3 separate regions of the Homo sapiens genome follow, and regions 2 and 3 are each linked to region 1. Evidence: fine-mapped expression QTL. A gene starts in region 1. Each other region holds a variant in brackets. All regions are shown on one strand. Distances are between the middles of the regions.

The links. PIP is the estimated chance that this variant, and not a neighbour inherited with it, causes the effect. A credible set is the group of variants that fine-mapping cannot tell apart.
Region 2: its variant is the best candidate, but not a certain one, in a credible set for the expression of BRMS1 in whole blood (INTERVAL, PIP 0.58).
Region 3: its variant is the best candidate, but not a certain one, in a credible set for the expression of BRMS1 in non-classical monocytes (Schmiedel 2018, PIP 0.60).

What each region holds. Positions count from the first base shown.
Region 1 is chr11:66,343,751-66,346,510 of GRCh38, reverse strand. It overlaps BRMS1 (BRMS1 transcriptional repressor and anoikis regulator), which reads left to right and starts at 1,407. Exons shown (of 10, transcript NM_015399.4): 1 at 1,407-1,539. It overlaps B4GAT1 (beta-1,4-glucuronyltransferase 1), which reads left to right. Exons shown (of 2, transcript NM_006876.3): 1 at 1-21; 2 at 271-1,137. The coding sequence ends at 462. RefSeq lists enhancers at 1,232-1,661, 1,117-1,667.
Region 2 is chr11:66,410,260-66,413,019 of GRCh38, reverse strand. It overlaps a transcript of NPAS4 not described here. Among named protein-coding and RNA genes, the nearest start is that of NPAS4, 9.4 kb to the left of the region's middle. The variant A/G (reference allele first, on the strand shown) is at 1,428.
Region 3 is chr11:66,322,697-66,325,456 of GRCh38, reverse strand. No RefSeq gene overlaps it. Among named protein-coding and RNA genes, the nearest start is that of CD248, 7.0 kb to the right of the region's middle. The variant C/T (reference allele first, on the strand shown) is at 1,504.

The DNA of each region.
Region 1 (2,760 bases):
GGCTTCAACCGAATCAGCCAGGTGCTCATAAGGGAGAGGGCAGGGGTAATGGGGCAGGAGGGGTGGTGGGATCAGGGAGTTATGAGGAGTGGCCCTGGATGGAAAGGAGGCAATGAAGCAGGAGGGATCATAGTTCAGGAGGTGGGTGGATGGTGTGGAAGATCCAGGATACTTCCAGAGGGGTGAGGACGCTGGACTGTGGCTTTAGGGAAGTCAGTCTCAGGCCTGTCAATGTCATCAAACTTTGCTAACCTGTCTTTCCTCCTGCAGGCCTGCGAGCTGCATGTGGCGGGGTTTGATTTTGAGGTCCTGAACGAAGGTTTCTTGGTTCATAAGGGCTTCAAAGAAGCGTTGAAGTTCCATCCCCAAAAGGAGGCTGAAAATCAGCACAATAAGATCCTATATCGCCAGTTCAAACAGGAGTTGAAGGCCAAGTACCCCAACTCTCCCCGACGCTGCTGAGCCCTTCCCTCCCCTAATCTGAGAAGTCAGCCTCTTGGCTCCTCAGGCCACCATTTAGGCCTGACTGGGGTAAGAAATGTCGCTCCACTTTACAGAGGTAGCTGTGGTGTTGAAACACTGGACTTGGATATGGGGTGCTGGGATCGATTCCTAGCTTTACCACTAACTAGCTGTGTGGCCTTGAGTAAATCCCGTTACCTCTCTGAGCCTCGGTTACCCTGTCTGTAAAAAGGGAGGTGAGAATACCTACCTCACGGAACTGTTGGGAGGCTCAGATGAGATGCTATATGTGAAAACATTCTGTAAGCTTCGTACAAATGTGAAGTATTAATATTATCGCAGTATTATTGTTGTTATTATTATTGTTATTATTAACAATCTTGGGTGGGTAGTAGGAGAGCAAAAAGTATGAATGGGATGGAGCTAAGAAGTCTGAATACTTAATGAAATGGACTTTTTGGAAAGAAATCAGATGAAGGCATAAAATTTAGTTCTTAGCTCTTGAACAGAAGCCTAAAATTCCTGGTTCTCTCAGGGCTTCGCCTTCAAGGGTTCTGGAGGAGGGAAGGGTCTGCAGGTTCCATGGGTGACAGCCTGAGATCTGTCCCTTCAACGGGCTGGGCTGGGTATGTGCCTACCGATGACAATGTGTAAATAAATGCGTGTTCACACCCACAGCTGGCTCCGTTACTCTCCTGAGCTGGGGGTGGGGGGATCGGGGCCGGCTTCTCCCCTTGCACGCCGTGGGGAGATGGCCGCGGACGAAGGGCACCGTCTGCAAAGCACTGAACCATCAGGGCCTTCCCTGCAGGCCGAAGGCCTGCGCGAATGTCGGCCAGTTACTATGGAGACCGGCCCGCGGTATCCCAGCATGCCTCGGGACCAAACTGTCCAACTGTGAGCATCCCCGACGGTCGCCTCCTGATGACGCACACGGAAGCACCGATAGGCTCTGCCTCCCGAAGAAAAGGGAGCCGCGCAGCGCCTACGGGAGTCCGGCGGCAGCAGCCGGTACCGGCAACCACGGGCAGCTCTCAGGGAATCTCCGTCGTGAGGCCAGAGGCTCCAGTCCCCGCGGTGCGTATCGTCATGCATGGCTTTTGGTTCGCCCTCTCCGGTTAGTCGAGCAGGGCCGGCACAACCTCCTCCTCCGAGGCCGAAGCAGAGATTTAACCGGCCTGACGCGTGCTGGGCTGCGGGCGAGCCAGTGATATTCCGGCCCGCTCCGGCGCATCTAGAAGGGAGCGGGAGGCCCCCTGGGCGCTGCGGAGAAGCTGGATTGACCTCTGCGAGAGTGGGGAGGGTCTGCCTTCCCTAGGGGCCTGCCCCGGAGGAGCTGCCATTCTGAAAAGATAAATTGCCTGTGTACAGCGCTTTACAGTGTGCTTTTCCATCCCTTACCACCTGTGAGCTCCTCAACACTCAGAGCAGGAATGGTTATCCGCTTTTTGCACCCGGGGTAAGGTGGGAAGGTTGTGACTTAACTCACTCATAATCAGAACCAGGGGGAGGAAAGAAAGGCTTCTGGAAGAGATAGACTTAAGCTGCATCTTACAAAGTGAATATACTAACAGTGAAGAGGCATTGCAAATGTTGGGAACTGAGGCTTGATAACGGGAAGATGAAGCTGGTTTAGAGAACCGAGCCTTTCAAGTCAGGTGCAGGTCATTAGTGAAATTGTTGAGGAATATGACTAAACACTCACCTAGGCCAGGCTTACTATACACAACTTGAACTGGTGTCAAGGAAAGCTTGCTACCATTACAGGGACCTGGGACTACCGAAAAGTAAAAACTAATGTCTGTCTCACAAAAAATTTTTTTGTTAAATTTGTATTTGCAAATCCTCCAGTCATCAAGTGAACCAGCACTGTGCTAGGTAAATAAGTTACATGTGCAGCCCCTGCCCTAGTGAGGCTCATAGACTGATTGCGGGGACAGATATGAGAACAGGCAAATAGATATAAACAAAGCTTCCTGGAGGGAGTGGTGTCTGCACTGTTCTAAAGGACTACAAAGCAGTGTCCAGAGAAGTTGGAAGAACACAATAAAATAGAAGCCTGCAGGAGGTTGAGAGATTATCTGCTGAGAGGACTGTTTTCTTCTTCTTAGGTGATCTCTTGGCAGTACTTGGCACTATCAGTGCAATTACTCCTTGGCAGTACTTGGCTTTCTTCTAAAACTCTTTCTCCACCACTTCGGGTTTTGCCTCCTCCTTTGTAGGGGTCTCCTCATCTGCCCCTTTGGTGACCCTGGGCGTCTTCTGATCGCACACATTGTGCCTTGCTGGTTGCACCTT
Region 2 (2,760 bases), 67 kb before region 1:
CCAGCGTAAAGTGCTTCATAAACATTTGTAAGAAATTTTTAAAAGATGGAAGGAATGGAGAGATGTTCCTCAGAGAAGAGGAGGCTTGAGGAGGTGGTGTGGCATTTGCAGATGTTTGAAGGACCATCAAGAGGCAGTGGGAGAGACACGGTCCACGTGGAAAGGCCAGTGGGAGGGGATGTACCTGAGGCAGGAGAGGGTGGCGGGGGAGGAGAATCTGGGCTGAGTCCTGCCTCCTCCACAGACTGCCTTTGTGACATCGGTCAGTTAAGTGACTTAACCTTTTGTGCCTCAGTTTACCGATTTGTTAAATACAGAAGTGGGGAGAATGATGGCACCCCTATCAAGGGACTGATGTTAGCATTAAAGGAGTTAATTAGTTAAAACACTCAGAAAATGCCTGATGCATAAAAGGAGCACAAGAAATGCTCACATGGCAGAATGTTGGTCATTATCTTAACTTTATGAAAAATATAATTTTGAACAAGGCTATGCAGAGACGGCAGGGGCTGGTTCAGGAGGCAGCACATGTCCTGGCACTGCAAGTGTAGAAATAGCCTGGGTACCCACCGGCAGCTTTGATCCAGGCCAGGTCTGAGAGCACCAGATGGAGTAAACCAGGCTAAGGCTGCAGCCTGGAGAAGTGGAGGGATGCACATAAAGTGCCCCTCAGGGCTCTGGCTCGGGCCCCAGCAGGCTCCTTCCCCGGGCAGCAGCTGCCCCCTCCACTGCTCACCAAAGCCAGAGACGGAGGTCCCGGGCCGGGCCCAACACACCCTTCTGGTGCTCAGCAGCCCAGCTCCCCTTGCCATTCTTCCGGAAGCCAACCTGACCATGTTCTTCCCAGCTTAAGACCCTTGTGGCTCCCATTATCTCCCATTACTAAAAACTCCTCCAGGCTGGCACCTCCTTTCTTCCCCTTCCACCAACAGATACCTCAGCCTCCAGAGGCTCCAGCTTCAAGTCTCTCCTTGTTACTATCAGGGCACAGCTCGTAACATAGGAGTTTACAGATGAGGCACCTACCCACACCTTGTGTACCTGATGAGTGTATTAATTCATGAAAACCTCACAGCAGCCCTATGACATGCCAGCCATCATTACTCTCACAGGCCCTGGGCCAACAGAGAGGAAATCTACAGGGAACAGTCCGGGGGTCCCAGGAAAGACTGATGGGATTTAAGGCTCCAGTGGTCAGAGAAGGTCAGGGACTGGGCCGAGGGGCAACAAAGAGGAGACCCCCACGAGCAGGGAGAATGGTGCTCCCCATGCTGGGGAACGCGGGAACCACAGGGAGTTGGGTGAACCATGGTGAGCAGGGGAGAGTGACCCTTACGGCTGCTGATGGAGCAGCTTCTGAAGCCAAGAAGGGCTGAGCACTGGTGGGAGGGGAGGAGCACCAGGAAGCTTTGGTGGAAAGGACCATC[A/G]GGTTGAAGGGAAAGCCCCTGAATTGCCATCCCTGACAGGCTGTGAGTTGGGAGAGCCTTCTGCCAAGGAGTCCAAGGTCCAGGAAGAAGACGAGCTGAGCTCAGTCTAGATGTCAGCGGATTATGTTTGGTGCAGGGGAATAGTTCTGAATAGGAGCAGCAGAAGATGCAGATTCTGTTCCCAGCTCTACCACTAGCCTGCTGGGCGTGTTCTGCAAACCTCTCTCCCTCCCTGGGCCTCAGTTTTTGTATTTGCAAAATGGCAGTGGGTCAGACCCCTTAGCCTCAAAGGGCCCTCCCAACCTCTGGCACTTGAGCATCTCTGAGCCTGCTGGGCCACCTGTCCCAGTGCCTCTTGGGCTTTGGAAGTTGAATGCTGCAACCCCAAGCCCCAGTTTCAGGTAGGGATGAGCCCATTGCCCAATGCTGGGGTCCGAGTGGGCCTGAAGGCTCCCAGAGGACCACGTTCTCAGCCCTGGATGGGCAGGGACCCTGGAGACCTGGCCTGTGTGGACACAGGGGAGTAAGTACTGGGACTGAGCCTGTAGTTTTGCTTCTTCCACCCAACCCGTTGGGGGTCGTTCTCACAGCTTGGTGCTGGGTACACCAGGGGACTCACCATTGGAGGGATCCGATGGGTTCCAAGGTGCACAAAACAGACCCCCAGGTCATCCTCAGGTGGTCTACACAGCCTGTGGCTAAAGCAACTGCTGTCTCCAGCACTTCTTAGCTTCAGTCTGGTGAAAGGAAGAAAGTCCCCTTGGCAGTGTCTTACAGGCAGTCATAGAGGGACCCCACAGCCTGGCCAAAATGCTCAATTTCAGAAAATCCCAGACTCATAATTGGAGTGACGGCCCTTGAAAGATGGTCTTGGATGACTGAGACCTAATGCAGAGAGTGGAGTGACCCCAGTGACACACGGCCAGCACTTGGTGGAGGTGGACCCGGACCAGGTCCTTGGTTCATGGTGCAGTGGCCATGTGGGCCTCCCACAGGCTGTCCTCTGGGGCCCAGGTGCTGAGGAGCCTGGGCCAGGAGGCAGAGCTGTAGGTCCTAGTCTTAGCGGCACCCTGACTTGCTGTGCGACCTTGGCGAATTGTGTCTGAGGGCCGCCTGAGTCTCCCCCTCTGCACTGAGGGCTTGGCGCTGGGAGCAGACGCTCTGTTAAAGCACCATTCAAGGTCCCAGAGCTAGGCGCTGGGAGTGGACGCTCTGTTGAAGCACCTTTCAAGGTCCCAGGGCTGTACCAGAGCAGGAACTTCTCTCCTTGCCACCCTCGGAGCCCTCAAGTGCTGCTTGTGTGTTCGGCTCCACCTCTGGGTCCCCCATCCCG
Region 3 (2,760 bases), 21 kb after region 1:
TGTGGACTCGCGGGGACACACGCACATCACCCAGCTGTACACTCACAGCAGTCCCAGGCCTTTGCAAGCACACACATGCACACGCACACACACATGCACACACACATGCACGTGCACACACACATGCACACATGCAAGCATCCAGGAACACGAACATGGCCTCTCACCATGGTAAATACACCCCCAACCCTCAGCCCCCTTCGGTCGGCAAGATCCTTTACCCTCAGGGGCTAGGCCTGGTCTGGACCACACTTTTCCTGGGTCCCCCTTCCCCAAGCCTATTCCTCCCACCCGGCCCACTCCCCAGCACCACTGCCTCCCCTTCCGGCAGGGATCTCCCATCCAGAAGCACACAGGTTGGGGGGGAGGAGCAGGAGGCTGCAGTCGCTCCCTTCCCTCCCCAACTCCTGCCTGGGGTAGATGCCTGGACTTGGGTGGCAGGGACCCCCCAGCGCCCACCCAAGACCAGTGGCCTCCCACCCACCACACATCAAAGCTTCCTCCTGACAGTCCGAAGGCTGGGGTGGTTTGGGAAGAATTTAGGCGTGGAGGGAGGTGGGGGATGGGAACAGAAGAAAAGGAGAAAAGGAGGTGATTTGTACACAAAGCAATGTGCTGGCTCAGCGGCCTGGCGTGCCAAGGCCGTCCAGGACGCCTGCCTGGGGGGCGTCCCCTAATCACACTCGATACCCCACCCTGGCTGTTCCACTGGGCCCTCTCTGGGCCAGCCCTTCTTCAGGCCGCCCTCACCCTCACCCCCACAGGCCCACACATGGCATCCAAAACCACCATCTGCTTCTTGCCTGTCCCAGTAGCTGCAAGACAAGGCTCCTTCTCAGGCCATGGGCCTCTGTGTTCATGCTGTTCTTCAGATGAGCTCCCCTCATATGGGCCATGATCAGAGCAGGGAACCCCAGCCTCCTGACCCCTGATGTGAGCTGAGCCTGGCCTCCTGAGCTTGGAAGGTACATCGTCCCTACCCTCAGCCAGGGAGACATGTTGGCCTCAGAACCCAGCAGAAAACAGGCTGTTTGGTACCACGAGAAGCATCACACCTGATCCCTGCCAGTGGTAGTCTAAGTTGTCCTGTCCTGGGCTGCACTTCTGCAGAGCCGCGGAGTTCTGTTCTGAGCATGTCATTCATCATGGTGGCTGCTAGTTATGACTCAGGACCTCCCACTTCTGCCTGTGGCCCTATATCCAAACATGCATCTCAAAATCTTCTCATCCACACACCTGCCCACCTACCCATCTATCCATCCATCCACTTACTCATTTCTACATCCTTCCATTTAGCCTCCCGTCCACCCAACCACCCATCCACCTATTCTCCACGTAAACATCCTCCCACCCACCCATGCATCCATGCATCCATCCATCTATTCACTCTCCCACCCATGCATCCATCCATCTATCCACCCATGCATCCACCCACCCATGCCTTCATACATGCATGCATGCATCCATCCACCCACCCACCCATGCATCCATCCATTTGCCCAT[C/T]TACTCATGCATCTACCCACCACGCACCCATGCATCATCTATGCATGCCTCTGCCCACTCATCCACCCACCCATGCATCTGTCCAGCCACCCACCCATGCATCTGTCCAGCCACATACAGCCCTATGCATGCATACATCTATCCATCCATCCATCCACCCATCCATCCATCTTCTGCCCAAGCATCCTTCTACCCACTCATACATCTGTGCATACATGCATTCATCCATCTACCCATCTACTCATGTATCCACCCACCCACACACCCATGCATTCACCCATCCATGCATCCATCCACCCACACACCCACCCCAGATCAACATCCATGTATCCACCCAGCCAGCCACCCCACTCATTCATTATCCATGCATGCATTCATCCATCCGTCCATCAGTCCATCCACTCATGCATGCCTCCATCCATCCATGCATCCATCCATCCATATATCCACCCACCCATCCTCCAAGCATTTATTGTATCAATTAGCATCTTCTCTCTGCTAGGCTGAAAGACTAGCAGGAAGAACAAGACCCCAACCAACCCCTCTCCAGCCCCTTAAACCCAGATCCCTGATGCTATGCCCGCTACATCCTCCAGCCTCACTAGATAAAACAGTTCTTGGGCAGCCTCAACCTTACCTCACACAACCTTGGGGAGGCTGCTGAGTGCTGGGCACCCTCCCGAACTGAGCAACCAGATACCTCTCCAAGTCTCATTCCCAATCCACCAGACGCTTAGCCTCACAGAGGCCAGAGGTGCCCCTTCCTGCCTTCTCCATCCCTCATGCTGGCTCAGGCCTCCTTCCACTTGCAAGTAGGCCCAGCCAAGACATCTGGAATTTGGCCTTTGACCTTTCTTCTCCTGCTTTGCCTGCTTGCCCCCCAACCCCTCACCCCCACAGAGGCTGGACTCCTGACCTCTGATCCCATCCACCCACTTGTCAGACGGCCTGCAGCCATCCGTCCCCTTAGACGCCCTAGTACTGGCCATTGCCCGACTCATGACTGGGCTCACCACACCCTTGGACCAGGCTCAGGACTGCCCCTAAGGAGCCTCTGGAGGCTGCCTCCCCCAGCCCGGCCCGCCCTGCCGCCGGGCTCTCCAGCCAGCTCCCTCCCCTTTCCCAGACTATTGCAACAGCCTCCTAACTGGTCCCTGGCCTCCAAGCCCCCTCCACCCACCACACACAAGCCACAGAGATCTCTCATCATGCCTCTCTTCCCCATGGCCTCCAGAAGGGAGCCCCGGACTTTTAGGG